Homo sapiens: one gene and its partner. The protein of the gene in region 2 binds, or shares a complex with, the protein of the main gene of each other region. Each region holds a gene or a part of one and is shown on either strand. Other genes may lie near its edges. A codon is read from its position in the direction of its gene.

What was found. Proteins that work in one complex are often made in the same cells at the same time.
Region 1: the proteins of KSR2 (region 2) and MAP2K1 are in contact, whole or in part, in a crystal structure (PDB 7UMB), measured with the Homo sapiens proteins. Residues at the interface, in NP_775869.4 of Homo sapiens: Lys674, Arg818, Asp820, Lys821, Leu822, Arg823, Ile824, Gln825, Asn826, Ile837, Arg838, Gln839, Leu840, Ser841, Pro842, Gln877, Pro878, Ala879, Glu880, Ala881, Ile883, Trp884, Gln885, Gly887, Thr888, Met890; in NP_002746.1 of Homo sapiens: Val81 (codon at 3,725), Glu102 (codon at 2,154), Met219, Ala220, Asn221, Ser222, Phe223, Val224, Gly225, Thr226, Arg227, Ser228, Met230, Arg234, Leu235, Gln236, Gly237, Met308, Ala309, Ile310, Phe311, Glu312, Leu314, Asp315, Val318, Asn319.

The regions. Positions count from the first base shown.
Region 1 is NC_000015.10:66,431,912-66,438,911, reverse strand, and holds part of MAP2K1 (dual specificity mitogen-activated protein kinase kinase 1), read right to left. Parts: intron 3,886-7,000; coding exon 3,675-3,885; intron 2,167-3,674; coding exon 2,020-2,166; intron 1-2,019. UniProt on the Homo sapiens protein: Dual specificity protein kinase which acts as an essential component of the MAP kinase signal transduction pathway.
Region 2 is NC_000012.12:117,965,885-117,973,496, forward strand, and holds the start of KSR2 (kinase suppressor of Ras 2), read right to left. Parts: upstream 3,107-7,612; 5' UTR 2,372-3,106; coding exon 2,192-2,371; intron 1-2,191. UniProt on the Homo sapiens protein: Location-regulated scaffold connecting MEK to RAF. Has very low protein kinase activity and can phosphorylate MAP2K1 at several Ser and Thr residues with very low efficiency (in vitro).

The sequences.
Region 1 (7,000 bases), on a different chromosome or scaffold from region 2:
ACACCCAGGGCCAAAAGGTCCTATGGCAGGCTCCAAGGCCTAACCCTCCCCCATCGAGTCCCAAGCCTGACCAGGTCTTCCCCATCCTGGCCACTCTCATTCAGTCACTCAACACATACCACCTAACAGGTGCCAGACACTGTGCTTGGCCCTTGAAACATTTTCCCCTCCCAGTCTCATGCTCTCCACGATAACTCCAGAGACTTGTGCAGGAACATCTCACTATTTCCAGAGAGCCAAATCCATGGGGGGAAAAACTGACCTGCAGTCACTGGAAATGGGCTAAGAGAATGGGAAACCAACTCCAGTCATTTCCAGTGTCATTTTCTCCTGAAGGAGGAGGAAGGCTTGAAGGAAGGGGAGGACATGGCAAGGGCACAAGAGATGTGATCAACATCTGTAAGTTCAAAGTGAATAAAGAATTCCAGAATAAGGATGCCACCTAGCATCTCAAAAAAGGTCAATGTAAATGAAGAAGCCTCCTAGTATCTCAAAAGAGGTCAATGTAAGAAAAATAAAAAGATTGGTTGGGCACGGTGGCTCATGCCTGTAATCCCAGCACTTTGGGAGGCCGAGGCGGGCAGATCATGAGGTCAGGAGTTCGAGACCAGCCTGGCCAACATGGTGAAACCCCATCTCTAGTAATGATAGAAAAAAATTAGCGGGGCGTGGTGGTGCGCACCTGTAATCCCAGCTACTCTGGAAGCTGAGGCAGGGGAATCACTTGAACCTGGGAGGTGGAGGTTGCAGTGAGCCGACATCGCGCCACTGCACTCCAGCCTGGGTGACAGGGCGAGACTCTGTCTAAAAAAACAAAAAGAAAAAAAAAGAAAGGGGAAAAAAACCCTTCATCACCCTAAAAAATAAAAATAAATTAAAAAAAAAAAAAAAAGAACACAAGAGACCCAAGGGATAAGAAACAGCTCCCTGAGGGGAAGCCAAGACCCAAGCAGAAAATAATCAGCACCCCAGGCCAAGCACTAGGACCAAGCCAGAAATGTTCATATGCTTCCCACAGAGAATGCTCTGCTCTCATTGAGGAAAGAAGGAACAAGCACTTTCTCTAACCTTTAGATGTGCAGAAGACGTTTTTAGGATTTAGGTTCCATATGGCACCCACAAATGTCAGCAGATGCCTATAACAGTGGATGCAGCACTTCGTGATCATTACAATGAAGAGAGGTTCAAAATAATGGAGGCACAAGTAGAGAATCCTCCCAGGAGGGTTCTTCTAAAGTTCATTAAGGCTGCACACCAGGATCCCTATTCTAAAGGTCAGGGCAGGTCTCAAGTATCAGGAATAAAATGGGGTAGGAGCTGAGAGACACAATACTGGACTGAAAGCACAACAGCCACCAAGTGTGCAGACTCACGTCAGCCCTCATCTCTAAGCCATCAGCCCAGGGAGAATAAAGCAAAGACTAATACTTGCAGAATTCCCTAAGTTGCACAGTGTGTTGGAAGACTTATATCTGAAGAAAAGGAGGGACTCCAAGAACATAGTGGTAAAATGATTGGCAGCTAACATGCATATGATTAATTAGCCCATGAATGCCCTCTCTCTCCATTGCCCTCTCCTTCCACTAACGTGCATCATACAGAAACCCAGAGAAACCCTTCAGGCTGCCCTTACAGTAGATTATGTCATCTTTTTAACTCCAGAGCCTTGCACCTAGCATACAGCATTGTACACAAGAAATGGATTTAAACTGTATTTACCAGATTTTACTTACATCACATCTTAGGGTAATCAGAATCAAAAAAACTATGAGAGGTGCTCTAGGTACACCCACCAGGAATACTGCCCACTTCCTTCAAGAGAGGCAAGGACCTAGAAAGGAGGCCTGCCATCTTGTGAATATCCCAAGCTCTACAGTTAGACTTCCCAGATGCCCCAGATAGTGATGTGGATCCCAGGAGCAGCAGGGAGGTAGCTGGTCACCTCCCAGACCAAAGATTAGGCCAGAGCCACCCAACTCTTAAGGCCATTGCTCCAGAGGCTGAGAGGGTGTCACATACCATGTGCTCCATGCAGATACTGATCTCGCCATCGCTGTAGAACGCACCATAGAAGCCCACGATGTACGGAGAGTTGCACTCATGCAGAACCTGCAGCTCCCTTATGATCTGGTTCCGGATTGCGGGTTTGATCTCCAGATGAATTAGCTGGAGAAAGGTGGAAGAAAGAGAGGTTTTATGAAAGAAAGAGGGAGGAAGGGATGAAAGATATAGTCTTGTTAAATGTTTAAGCTCTTTAAGGTAGAGGGAGGAGAAACAGGTTAAGTTGTTACAAACAAGTTTCTGCTCAACCAAGAAATGAGTGTCATTGTACTAAGGCAGGCATTGGCACTGGAGGCTGTTCCAGCTGTGCCTCGGCTCCTGGGAGCCTAGACAGGAACAAAGTTAAGGGAGGGCTTACTCCAAGAGAGGCTTTGGAGCTCAGATATGAAAAGAAATTGACCTTGAGGACTTGGTTCACACTCAAGAGTTGTGAAAGTAGAAGGGTATGAGGAACTCAGGTATGCTAACCTAGGCTGCCCAAAAGATTCTTCCTTGAGCTCAGGAGCCTGATGTGGTTGAGACTAAGCCAAAGTCTAAGGTGCTACCTTATGTCATCCTAACATTTTCCCTTGTTCCAGCTGGGGAGACAAGTGACAGTCACATTAAATAGTTACGTAGTAAGGTTGAACTTCTAAAAAAATCCCACAGACAGCGAGTGTCAGAGAACATGGATGCAGTGGTTACCAGTGTGGGCTGGGGCACCTGGTAAAAGCTAGACAAGAGGTGGACCTAGAAAATGGGCACTGTTTGAAAAGACAGAAGCAACAGCACACAAAAAAATTATGGGCACAGGAGTGAACACCATGTGCAAAAAAACATTGAAGAGCCCAACCTCTCTGGAGCAAGGGGCTGTATTCCAAAAGAGGACCAAGGGTAGATAGGAAAGGGAAGTCCAGCTCTACAAGTACATGCTATGATAGGAGTTCAGATGCTATAATGCAGGAAGATAAAGGGGATTCACTGGCAGGGCTGGAGCACAAGAGGGAAACAACTTGAAATCCTTGTTTTGTGCATCGCTGGGGCTGGGTGAATGAAAGCAGCTTCTCCAGCACTTGATAAGTAATAAACAGGTATCCTGGCATTCCTTCCACAGCACACAGAAGGCTAAAAAAGAGTCACTTATTATTTTCCAGATGGGATGGGGATTAATACACTAACACAGTCATTAGTGTGTTTATCCATAATCTAATATAGATAACAAGCATTCAAAATTCAAACAGCACGGCTGGGCACAGTGGCTCACACCTGTAATCCCAGCACTTTGTGGGGCTGAGGCGGGCGTATCACCTGAGGTCAGGAGTTCGAGATCAGCTTGACCAACATGGAGAAACCCTGTCTCTACTAAAAATACAAAAAAATTAGCCATGCATGGTGGCGCATGCCTGTAATCCCAGCTACTCAGGAGGCTGAGGCAGGAGAATCGTTTGAACCCAGGAGATGGAGGTTGCACACCAGCCTGGGCAACAAGAATGAAACTCCGTCTTAAAAAAAAAAAAAAATTCAAACAGCACAAAAAGGTATTGAGTAAAATCAGTCTTCCTTCTACCCTGGTCCCCAGGCTTCTAAGTACCCTGAGAAATAATCCAATTACCTGTTAATCAAGGCAAACTCACCTTTCTGGCCATGACCAGGCCAGAAGGCTTGTGGGAGACCTTGAACACCACACCGCCATTGCCAGCCCCCAGCTCACTGATCTTCTCAAAGTCGTCATCCTTCAGTTCTCCCACCTTCTGCTTCTGGGTAAGAAAGGCCTCAAGGCGCTTTCGCTGCTGCTCATCAAGCTCTAGCTCCTCCAGCTTCTTCTGCAAGGCCTCCAAGTTGGTCCTGTTCCAAAGTGGGGAGCACAAGTCAATACTGTCACCAGAGAAGTCAACCCAAAGAAGTACTCCTATCATGGAAAGAAAGCTCCAGGTCTGGGGCCAGACAGATAATCAAAGTGGGAGGCTAGAGAGGAGGCCCCCTCCCACTGTGGCTCTGCCCACTTCACTCCAGCCACCCGGGATGACTATCACCAACATGCTTTACCTCTCAGGGCTTCAATTTCCTCATTTATAAAGTGAAAAAATTAGGTCTTTCTCACTCAGTATGCTGCAAGTCAATGAGAGGAACAAAAGAACCTACTAAAATCCAGAATGAGCCACCTTAATTTGCTTTAAAACCCCAGTTTAAAAAGCCCCACTACTGTTGGTTTTATTGTTTTTACCATACGCAAAATAAAATACCCTAAATTCACTAAAATGAAATCAAACCAACTTTAAACTGAATCACAACAGTAGAAATCCTCATTTTCAATGTAATCAGGTCCAGGAACCAGGTTAATCAAAAAAGTCACAGCAAAAAATCATAAAAATTACATATCTAAAATTCTTATTTTTACTCAATGTATATAAATCTGCATTCATTCGCCCATTCTTTAACATAGGGCAAGACTCTTTGAATAAGGGTCCAAAGAGGACCCACTGGTTAAGAGGTCCACATCATCCTTCGCACATGGACCAGAACATAATACATTGTCGACAATTTCCTATTCCTGATTTGTTAAAGCTGGTTAAAGTTATATTGTGATTACTTGCAGAGTAATCACAATATAAAATTCTAGAGTTTTATGATTTCCCCCAATCTTAATGTTCATCTAGTTTGACAGTAATGTGTTTTAGTGACTTGGACTTATAAGTCTTTCCACAGCTTTTAACTAGTGTTCATAGGGGAAAAAAATCACTTCATTTGCAGCTACATTTCATCAGTTTATCTGATACCTAAATACATTACTTAACTACAATACCAGCTACAGCTGAACAAATGGGTTTGGGAACAAGCTGGCTCTTGGTAAGCACATAATTCAGCCAGTGGGTGCTGAAGCGAGTGGGTATGGCAGAGAGCAGCCTGCCTGCAGTGCATTCAGCATGCTGTGGGCATTGCTCAAGAGTGTTTCATCCAGGGAACTGAAAAGTGTTCATCACTCCTGTGAGTTGGTTAACAGGAAGGTGGTAAGAGTTTCCACTGTGTTTCACTGGATTTCATTGGGTTTCAAATTGAAGTCCCGGGAGGTGAAGCATGTCAGTGACAATTGTGTGGGGTGGCTGAAGTGACACAGGTGACAAGATAGGCCTTCATTATACATCATCATGTTGGTGTTCCTGCCAACACACACACCCCAGTTCTGAGCTTAAAAGATAGAGTAAGCATAATCTGCTCTTCCTTCACACCCTCTATCCCAAACCTCTAGAAGACAGGGAAATGAAGACTTAATGCCTCTCCATGTATGAGGAGATCTGACACTGCCTTACAAATAACATCATGCATGGGACCAAAGAAGATGCAAGGCCGAGGTTACTGATTTTCCTCACTGATTTTCCCCCCACCCCACCTGCTGCACACATCAAAGAAAGGCCATGCAAGCACACAGTAGGAAGGCAGCTATCTGCAAGCCAGGAAGAGGGCTCTTGCCAAAACCCAACCATGCTGGCACCCTGCTCTTAGACTTTCAGCCTCCAGAACAGTGGGAAAATAAACTATTGTTGTCTAAGCTACTTAGTCTATGATATGTTATCATAGCAGTCCAAGCAAACTGAGGCAGCTACTCAATATTTTCATCCAAGGTTCGGCTATGTCTTGCAGTGTCCCCAGTCCCTAAGGTGTGGGAACCCAGAACATGTGTGGCTGGGGGTGCACAGTGCACACTCTCTGGTTTCCTTTCTCCAAGGTCTCCCCACAAAGGAGCTTACTGAGGACCACATTTAGAAACACATGTCAAATGTAGATGGACCCCACAGCTAAAACCTGAGTGAGGTTACAGCTGCCTGACAGGCTCAGCAGGCCAGCTAGAAATGCAGATTCGAAAAGCTGTCAACACACACACACACACACACACACACACACACACACACACACTGTGCATGATGGGGGAATGGAAGGAGGGCTGCATGGAAGAAAAACTGCTTTCCTCACAACACTGTGTAACTCTCCTCAGTGCTTTACATTTATTAAGTCATTTAATCCACAACCCCTAATTAGAACAGATGAGCAAACTCAAGCACAGACAGGTGAACTAAGATGTCAAAGGTCAAAGAGCTGGTAAGTGGCACAGCCACGTTTCAAATTCAGGCAGAGAGAACGAATGTCTTACCTTAACCATGATGCTATATTATCTTCAAAAAGCTCAATACTTTCAAGGGAGGCAACTGACAAACATGGGTAAGATCCCAGTGTGAGGCATTTAACACACCAGGCCTCAATCATACATAAAGATGGTGTGCCCTACACAAAAAGGCCTTTGCACCAGAGACAATCCTGTCTCCCCTGCACATCAATCTGATGATGGATCTGCTGGAGCAGATTAACACTGCCTTGCAGCTAATACTCGCCATAGAAATTCAATCAATTTGCAAAGGAAAAGGGAATGCTGACTCTGTTCACTTTTCTGACTCTTTGAAATAAGTAATTCTTACACCTTCTGGAGGAAAAACTAAGCCTGAGCTTTGTGCTTCCTTTCTCCCTCCTCTACCTCCTATGCCTTGCCGTTTAACCACCCACCCTACCAGCTAATGAACTGGCTTCTGACCTGTACTTTCAGAAGCTGGCCAGTGAGAGAAATGACAAAGACTATAGGCTGGGGTGGTAAAGACTTTCCTAATGGCAGGTGTGTATGGATGAGGACTGGAGATGGAATCGTGTTGACAAATCACTAGTATTCAAGAGTCCTGGATTCTTATCACAAATTGTTCATCAACCAGCTGTGTGACCATGGACAAGTCACTTAACCTTGCCACATTTCAGATTTCTCCTCTATATATCATGGAATACTATGCAGACATAAAAAGGAACGAGATCACGTCCTTTGCGGGAACATGGGTGGAGCTGGAGGTCATTATTCTCAGCAAACTAACGCAGGTATACAAAACCAAATACCGCATGTTCTCACTAGTAAGTGGGAACTGAA
Region 2 (7,612 bases):
GGCTGGACTTGGCTGGACCCTAAGTTACCAGCCCCTCTGCAGGGGCCCTCCCTAACCCTGCAAATCTGGGAAATACAAATTGGAATAATTGCTCAAGAGCATTCCCTGGGCAAGATGGATGAAAGTGGTTGCATGCTCTGTAGCATACTGGGACAAGGGAACTGAAAACAGATGCATTTCCTACAACTGCAACTCCCCCATAGCCATCCTACCAGTGCCTCCATCCCCCCAGTTTAAAAGGAAAACCACTAGGCAGAAAGAAGGCAATGCCCACTGCGGCACATCCCCATCCAGGAAGCTATCAGAGGATGGAGCATGTTTGAAACAAAAAAAAAGAAAACTTCGAAGAAACTTACACAGGAATACACAAACTAGCATTTGGGACTCCTGATTCAGAGGAACAGAAGAGAGCTCAGGTGGCTTTTTTGGGGTTATTTATTGACTGCATGCAGGTCTGAAGAGTCTGCTCTTGGGCACTGTTCAGGCAGAGACAGAAGGCTGGATCAGAACATCCCACACTTTTTCTTCCAGCAACAGAGCTCCGGCCTCACCTGCTCTCCCAAGCTCCAGGAAAGGCAATACCTGTGCCTCCCAACACAATTCCCACTCTCCCGATACACCTTGACATTGATCTTATTTCATCTCTGAGGATCACATTTCCAGATGACAGGTGCACACAGACATGCATCCTAGGGTAGCAAACAGCATGTTCTCTCTCTCTCTCTCTCACACGCGCACGCACACACACACACACACACACACATGCTGTCTCTCTCTTTCTCTCTCTCCCTCCCTCTCTTTCTCCCTCCCTCTCTCTCTCTCTCTTCTTTCAAAGGGATGACCTCCTGCATGTTGACATCCAGCCAAATTTAAAAATCACGGAAAAAAAAGAAATACCCAAAGCGAATCCGAGAAAAGCACCCATCCAGGCTACAACAGGGGCAGGAGGGCCACAAGATTCACTACGGACTGACGAGTTCAGGCCTTGGGAACTCATGTGCCAGGACCAAGATGAACGTCTCAGTACTGCTCATGCCCACTCCACCACAGAGGGAACCCCTGTTCTCTCAGCCCCACTGCCCCCACCCTCGGCGGATGCCAGCTAATGGAAGTTCCCAAATTTAATCAACCCATGCGTATAGCTGGGTTGGTTTGGGAGAAGGAAGTGAGCTGAACCCTTCAAACATTTTGAACAATGCAGATGTCCAGTGATCTCGTGGACACCAGGCATTTGGCATTTCCTAAGCCTCTTTAAACCTTCCTCCTTTGACCAAATGGCCTTCAGAAAAAAATAATTTCTGCCATCTTCTTTCTGAGTAACTTTGCAACCACCCTTCATCCCATCCCACTCCCCCAAAAAACTGTTTCAAACTCCCCCTCAAGTTCTGCCGGAGAGAATGTCACAAGAAGCCAAAGATAACTCCTCCTCCCCGACCCCTTTCCTCTTTCCTCACAGTCCCACTGAGATTCAGGAGTATTCTCCCACACCACCTATGTGTGCTGATTGAGGCATATTTTTTTTTCCCTTTTGTACGTTTTAGGCCTGCAACAGCTCACTGCATCAAAACGATTGGATTGGAAATGGGTAGTTCCATAGGAATTTTTTTTTTCATGCATCTTGCCTCCTGACATGTATATCACTGATTTAAAACAAAAAATCTAAGGAGCAAAAGGAGGGAGGGGAAGAAGGCCAAGAGAAGAAGAGGTCTACACTGACAGGCGGCCCCATTCTGTGAGCAAAAACCACCTTTTGACCACCTGCAGAATGCGCAAGGTCACGTGGGTTCTCTGCAGCTCCTTAATGTATTACCCGGCACACAAGCCCCCGTGGCATATAAACAAATCCACAAGCGGAAAAAAGAGAGAACTCCCTCCTCAGCGAGGAAGCGAATGACAACGGTAACAGCCGCAACAATAATAATAAATAAAGAATAACAATTACTACTACTACTACCACCACCCAGCCAAGCGCAGACGACAGCAGCACAGTAAAAGGATATCCAATGCAGGCTTTGCAAGGAGAGAAATCACAGAAAAGCAAACCGTGCCCACCTTGCTTGCCCACACCACCACCCCCAGCCCCCAATAAACAGAATCAGAGGGAAAGGGGACCGTGGGGAGAAAGGAGGGGGAAAGAAGGATTGCTTTTTTTTTTTTTTTTTTTTTTTTTTTTCCCGTAGGCAACACCTACCTCCAGGGTCCGGATTTCTTTTTGTGTGAGGTCGTTGGAGGTAGCACATTTGGTCCTAAGCCCTTCCAGGTTGGAGATGCTCAAGTCTATCATGTTTTGGACCAGTTCGCACTGCTGTAAGGCTTTTTGCAAACTCAGAGGCTGCTGCTCCTCGCTTTTCGTCATGTTTTCCTCATCCATCGCTTGCTCTGCAACCCCCTTCCCCTCCTCCTCCTCCCAGAGAGAAAAAAGAGGGGGGGGAGTAGAGGTAGTCTACCCTCCGCCTCTCCAACCACTGCGACTTCTCAACAATGTCTCATGAAGAAGAAATCCAACATCTCACACAGGGTTGAGGGGGTGGGAGTGGGAGGAGGGGACAAGAGCCAAAATTTATTATTTTATTTTGGGATATCAAGCGGACTCCATTAGAATGTCTCCTCTCTCTCTGAGTCTCTGGTCCCTGAAAAGGAGAGATGCTGTTTCTCAGAAGCAAACCAGGTGATGTGATGCTGTCTGTACACTTAGGGAGGAGGAGGAGGAGGAAAAAGAAGAGGAGAAGGAGGAGAGAGAGGAGGAGGGAGAGGAGGAGGAGGGAGAGGAGGAGGAGGAGAAGGAAAATAGCGCTCACTCTTTACACACCGGCTCCTTGAAGGACAAAATTATATATTTTTGGCTGGCTTGCTTTTATGTCAAAAAAAATCTGGTTTTCCCCCCTCCCAGTTGCAGGGACACGGCATGGTCCACGGTTTGGAGTGCTTTAGCGCGTTCTCAAGGTGCTGTCTGCATTGCTCCCGCGGCTGCGGCGGCTACTGCGGCTGGCTGCTGTCTCCTCCCCGCGCTGCTGCTGCTGCTGCTGCTGCCGCCGCCGGGCTCCGGGGGTGACGGTTGCTGCAATCGCTCCTGCCTCGCTCCACACCGACATCTTGCCTGTCAATCAAAGGGCGGGGGGGAGCGAGGGAGCGCCGGAGAGGGATGGAGACCAAGCGAGGGACCTGCAGGGGAGCGGGTTGGTGGAGAGGCGCCGTGCGCGCAGCCGCCCCAGCCGGGCCCCGGCCCCGGCGCGCCAGGGACCCGTCGGAGGAGGCGGAGGAGGAGCGCGCAGACTCGCGCACCTGGCCGGGGGGCGGGATTTCTAGGGGCTGCGGAGCTCGCGTGGCAAAGTGAAATTACTACCGGGAGTGCGTGCGAGCGAGCAAGCGAGCGATCGGCGGGCGGGGGCGCGGAGACAGCGCGCGCATCGGGCCCAGCCTGCTCCCGGGGGCGGCGGGGGAGGCCGGGAGTGTGCCCGAGCCTGGAGGCTGGGCGAGGGGGCGGGGAGAGGGATTTGGTGGCGGGGAGCGGGTGGGGGCCACTACTCCTGCACCGCTCTCGCGAGACCGGGCCGGAGTGCTGCTCAGCAGGTGCGCTCCGGCTGGGAGCAGGTGTGCGCCCAACTTTAAAACCCTCGGTGCGCGCCGGAGAGGCGTCGGCGTGAACCTGGGCACATCCCGTCTGTCTTTAGCTCGGGGGTGGTGTGTGTGTGTGTGTGTGTTTGCCTTTTTTGTTCGTTTGTCCTTTGGGTGTGTGTTTGTGTGTGTGTGCCTTTTTTGTTCGTTTGTCCTTTCTTGTTACTGGGGAAAAAATAAAGCGAACCTGATGATCTTCCGTGAATTTCAGGAAGCTGCCTCCTAGACTTGGTAGCCTGGCCCGCCCTGATGGCTTTCCATTTGGCGAGGAAAAGGGCCTTTGCCTTATTCTGAGTATTCCCATGTCCTACAAGTGTCTGTGTGGCCTGACCCCAGCATACCTAACTGACGTTATATCAGCAAACGATGGCTCCACAGTTAAGATGGTTTTTACCTTTTGAAATTTTTGGAAGCCTGGTGAGGTGGCTCATGCCTGTAATCCCCAGAACTTTGGGAGGCAGTCAGGAGGCTCGCTTGAGGCCAGGAGTTTGGGACCAACCTGGGCAACAACATAGCAAGACCCTGTCGCTACTAAAAATTCAAAAATTAAAAATGTAAATAAAATGGTTGGAAAAAAATGAAAATAACATTTTGTGACACGTGAAAGTTATGTGAAATTCACATCTCAGTGTCCACAAGTAAAGTTTTATTGGAGTACCACCACCCATCTGTTTATTGTCTGTGGTTACTCCTGCGTTGTAAAGCAGAGTTGAGTAGCTGCAGCTGAGACCGGTGGTTCACAACACCTGAAAGATTTACTGTCTGGCACTTTACAGAAAAGTTTGCTGACTCTTGATTAAATCTTTGTACTCTATGTCCACAGTGCTCAGAACATGCTTCACCCTAATCCTCTCCTGGTGGGTTTCTTCTTGTCACTGTTAACTCAAATATCATCTCAGAGAGGCCTCATCTCCCTAACCACCTTATCTAATAGTATTCCCAACACACATTGCCCAACAGATGTATTTAGAATGATTAGCAAAAGGCACCTCTTTCTTTAGGTGAACAGAGCCCTGTGCTGAGGACTGAGTAAGACGTGATACTCAGAACACATGGTATAATATGTCACTCTTAAATGAAGCCACTTGAAAAGCAGAGCGAACAGGAGCCAGTGGTGGCCACGTTGAATGACAACCTTTATTTTTAAGTTCTGGGGTAAATGTGCAGGATGTGCAGGTTTGTTACATAGGTAAACGTGTGCCATGATGGTTTGCTGCACCTATCAACCCATCACCTAGGTATTAAGCCCAGCATGCATTAGCTATTTTTCCTGATGCTCTCCCTCAACACACTTTTTTTTTTTTTTAAGACTGCCAGCTGACCCGGTGTGGTGGCTCCCACCTGTAATCCCAGCAATTTGGGAGGCTGAAGCGGGTGAATAGCCTGAGCTCAGGAGTTTGAGACTGCCTGGCCAACATGGTGAAACCCTGTCCCTACTAAAAATACAAATAATTAGCCTGGCATGGTGGCAGGCGCCTGTAATTCCAGCTACTCCCAGGCAGGAAAATCGCTTGAACCCAGGAGGCGGAGGTTGCAGTGAGCTGAGATTGTGCCATTGCACTCCAGCCTGAGCAACAAGAGCAAAACTCTGTCTCAAAAAAAAAAAAAAAAAAAAAACACAAAGAAAGAAAAACAATACTGTAAGCCATGGGATTTATAGCTATACAGAACTGAGTCAGTATTTTCAACATCTGTCAATGAGCAGGTGAAGTAAGTTCTCTATGTTCTCAATCTTTTGGACGATGAAGTTTATGAAATCCGATTCTCTGGTAAAATTATCTCTTTTCATCTATTTTCTCCAACTTTTCATTTTTCTTAAACATGTTAATTATGGTTATTTTAAAGCATTTGTCTAACTCCAAAAGCTTGATCACCTGTGGGTCTCTTTCTATTGACTATTTTTCCCTTTATTTTCAGTGATATGGTCCTGTCTCTTGGCAGGCCTTGTAATTCTTATTGAATGTCAGACGTTGAAAAAATGTACAGTCTCCAGGTGATAATATCTAACTCTGGAGAGGACGCACCCTTTCTCTGCAAGACAAATGGCATACAGATCAATTATCTTAATCCAATCAGGGGCTGAGCTGGGTGGAGACCAGGTTATAGTTTTGATAAGACACCACTTCACTCTGTTCCCTACCTCTAATGCTGTGCCTTTCCAGGGTTCCAGCTAGGAACCTTGGGTGTTCACTAAGGCCCCTCTCTCTGGTCCTGAGCTCTAACCCTTATCTCCACAGCATGGCGAGACTGTGGGAACGGCTCTGTTTTTGAGGGACCTTCTGCTTGGCTTCTTTGCTTCTTGCCCTGCACTATTTCAAACTTTGCCAAATACCTCGAGGGGAAACCACCATCTATCAGGCTCACTTTTCTGCCCCTGTCTTCTCCCTGGGATAATGGCCTCTCAAGTCCCCAGTTTTGTCTTTCTAGCCCCATGAGGTTGCTAAAAGTTTTGTCAGTTTCTCTGTTCCCCCAAAGCAGCCTTCATGCCTGGGAAGAGTCTAGAACCTCGGCCTCTTTCCCTGTGCCCAAATGTGCAAATATCCCCAGGGAAAAATCGGCTGCAGAACATCAGCTCACCTCACCACGGTGTTCCTGTCTCCAGAATCTTGGCCCCTTTAGTCCTGGTTATTTCAGCAGTTCTCTGAATGTCTTTTAACAGATGGTGACGATGATGATGATTTAATCTTGTTTTTCTAGTTGTTCTCAGAAGAAGTGGAAGTTTAAACAATGAAAGTAGCCCATGGGGCAGATGTCATCAATGGGCAGGGCTGTAAGCAGCACACAAATGCATACTCTTCCTATGTTTGGAAAATGCCTCACATTATGAGTTCCACCTTTCCCTCAGAGAAGCCAAAGCACTTTTCCAGAATCTTCCTTGCAAACAGGTCACATGTGATCTAGGCTGTGCCATTAGAAGATCACATGAGATTTCTGCCAGGAAGTGAACAACAAAAGGGAGGAATCTATCTGATAGTGAGCCTGGCAGCCAAGCCATCTGCTTCCAGGTGCTCCACCCCTGTGTAAGCTTGGTGTCCACGGTGAAAGGCATGTCACGTGTTCACAGGGGCAGCCCCACAGCTGGTTTGGGAGTCATTTCTGGCTGCACAGACAGAACCTGGCTCTCTTGTCCTCCTGGAGATTCTACAGAGTTTTCAACCACCTGTCTTAGTGGCTGCCATAACAAAATACTGGGTGGCTTAAACAACAGAAATTTATTTTCTCGCTGGGCGTGGTGGCTCGTGCCTGTAATCCCAACACTTTGGGAAGCCGAGGCAGGTGGATTACAAGGTCAGGAGTTCAAGACCAGCCTGGCCAACATGGTGAAACCCTGTTTCTACTAAAAATACAAAAAGAAAAAAAAATTAGCTGGGCATGTGGCGGGCACCTGTAATCCCAACTACTCAGGAGGCTAAGGCAGGGGAATCGCTTGAACCCAGGAGGTGGAGGTTGCAGTGAGCCAAGATCACGCCACTGCACTCCAGCCCAGGTGACAGTGCGAGACTCCATCTCAAAAAAAAAAAGAAAAAAGAAATTTATTTTCTCACTATTCTGGAAACTGGAATTCTGAAATTGGGATGCCAGCATGGTCAGGTTCTGGGTTCTGATGAGGGCTCTCTTCCTGGCTTGCAGATGGCCACCTTCTTGTTGTGTCCTCACATGGTAGAGAGAGAGAAAGATCTATCACTCTCTCTCTCTCTTCTTCTCTCTCATCCTCTTCTTATAAGGCCGTAGTCCTATTGGATTAGGCCCCCACCCTTAAGACATCATCTAACCTTAATTACCTCCTAAAGATCCTGTCTCCAGATACAGTTACATTGAGGGTTAGGGCTTCAACATATGATTTGGTGCAGGGAAGAGGGACCACAATTCACCACCCTATTAAAATACTTCTGCTTAAACTACCTAGAGTGGATTGTGTCATTGGCAACAAAGAACCCTGACTAATGCTCTTGACAGTAGTTCCAAAATTAAGAGATGCTACCCCAAAAATGCAGAT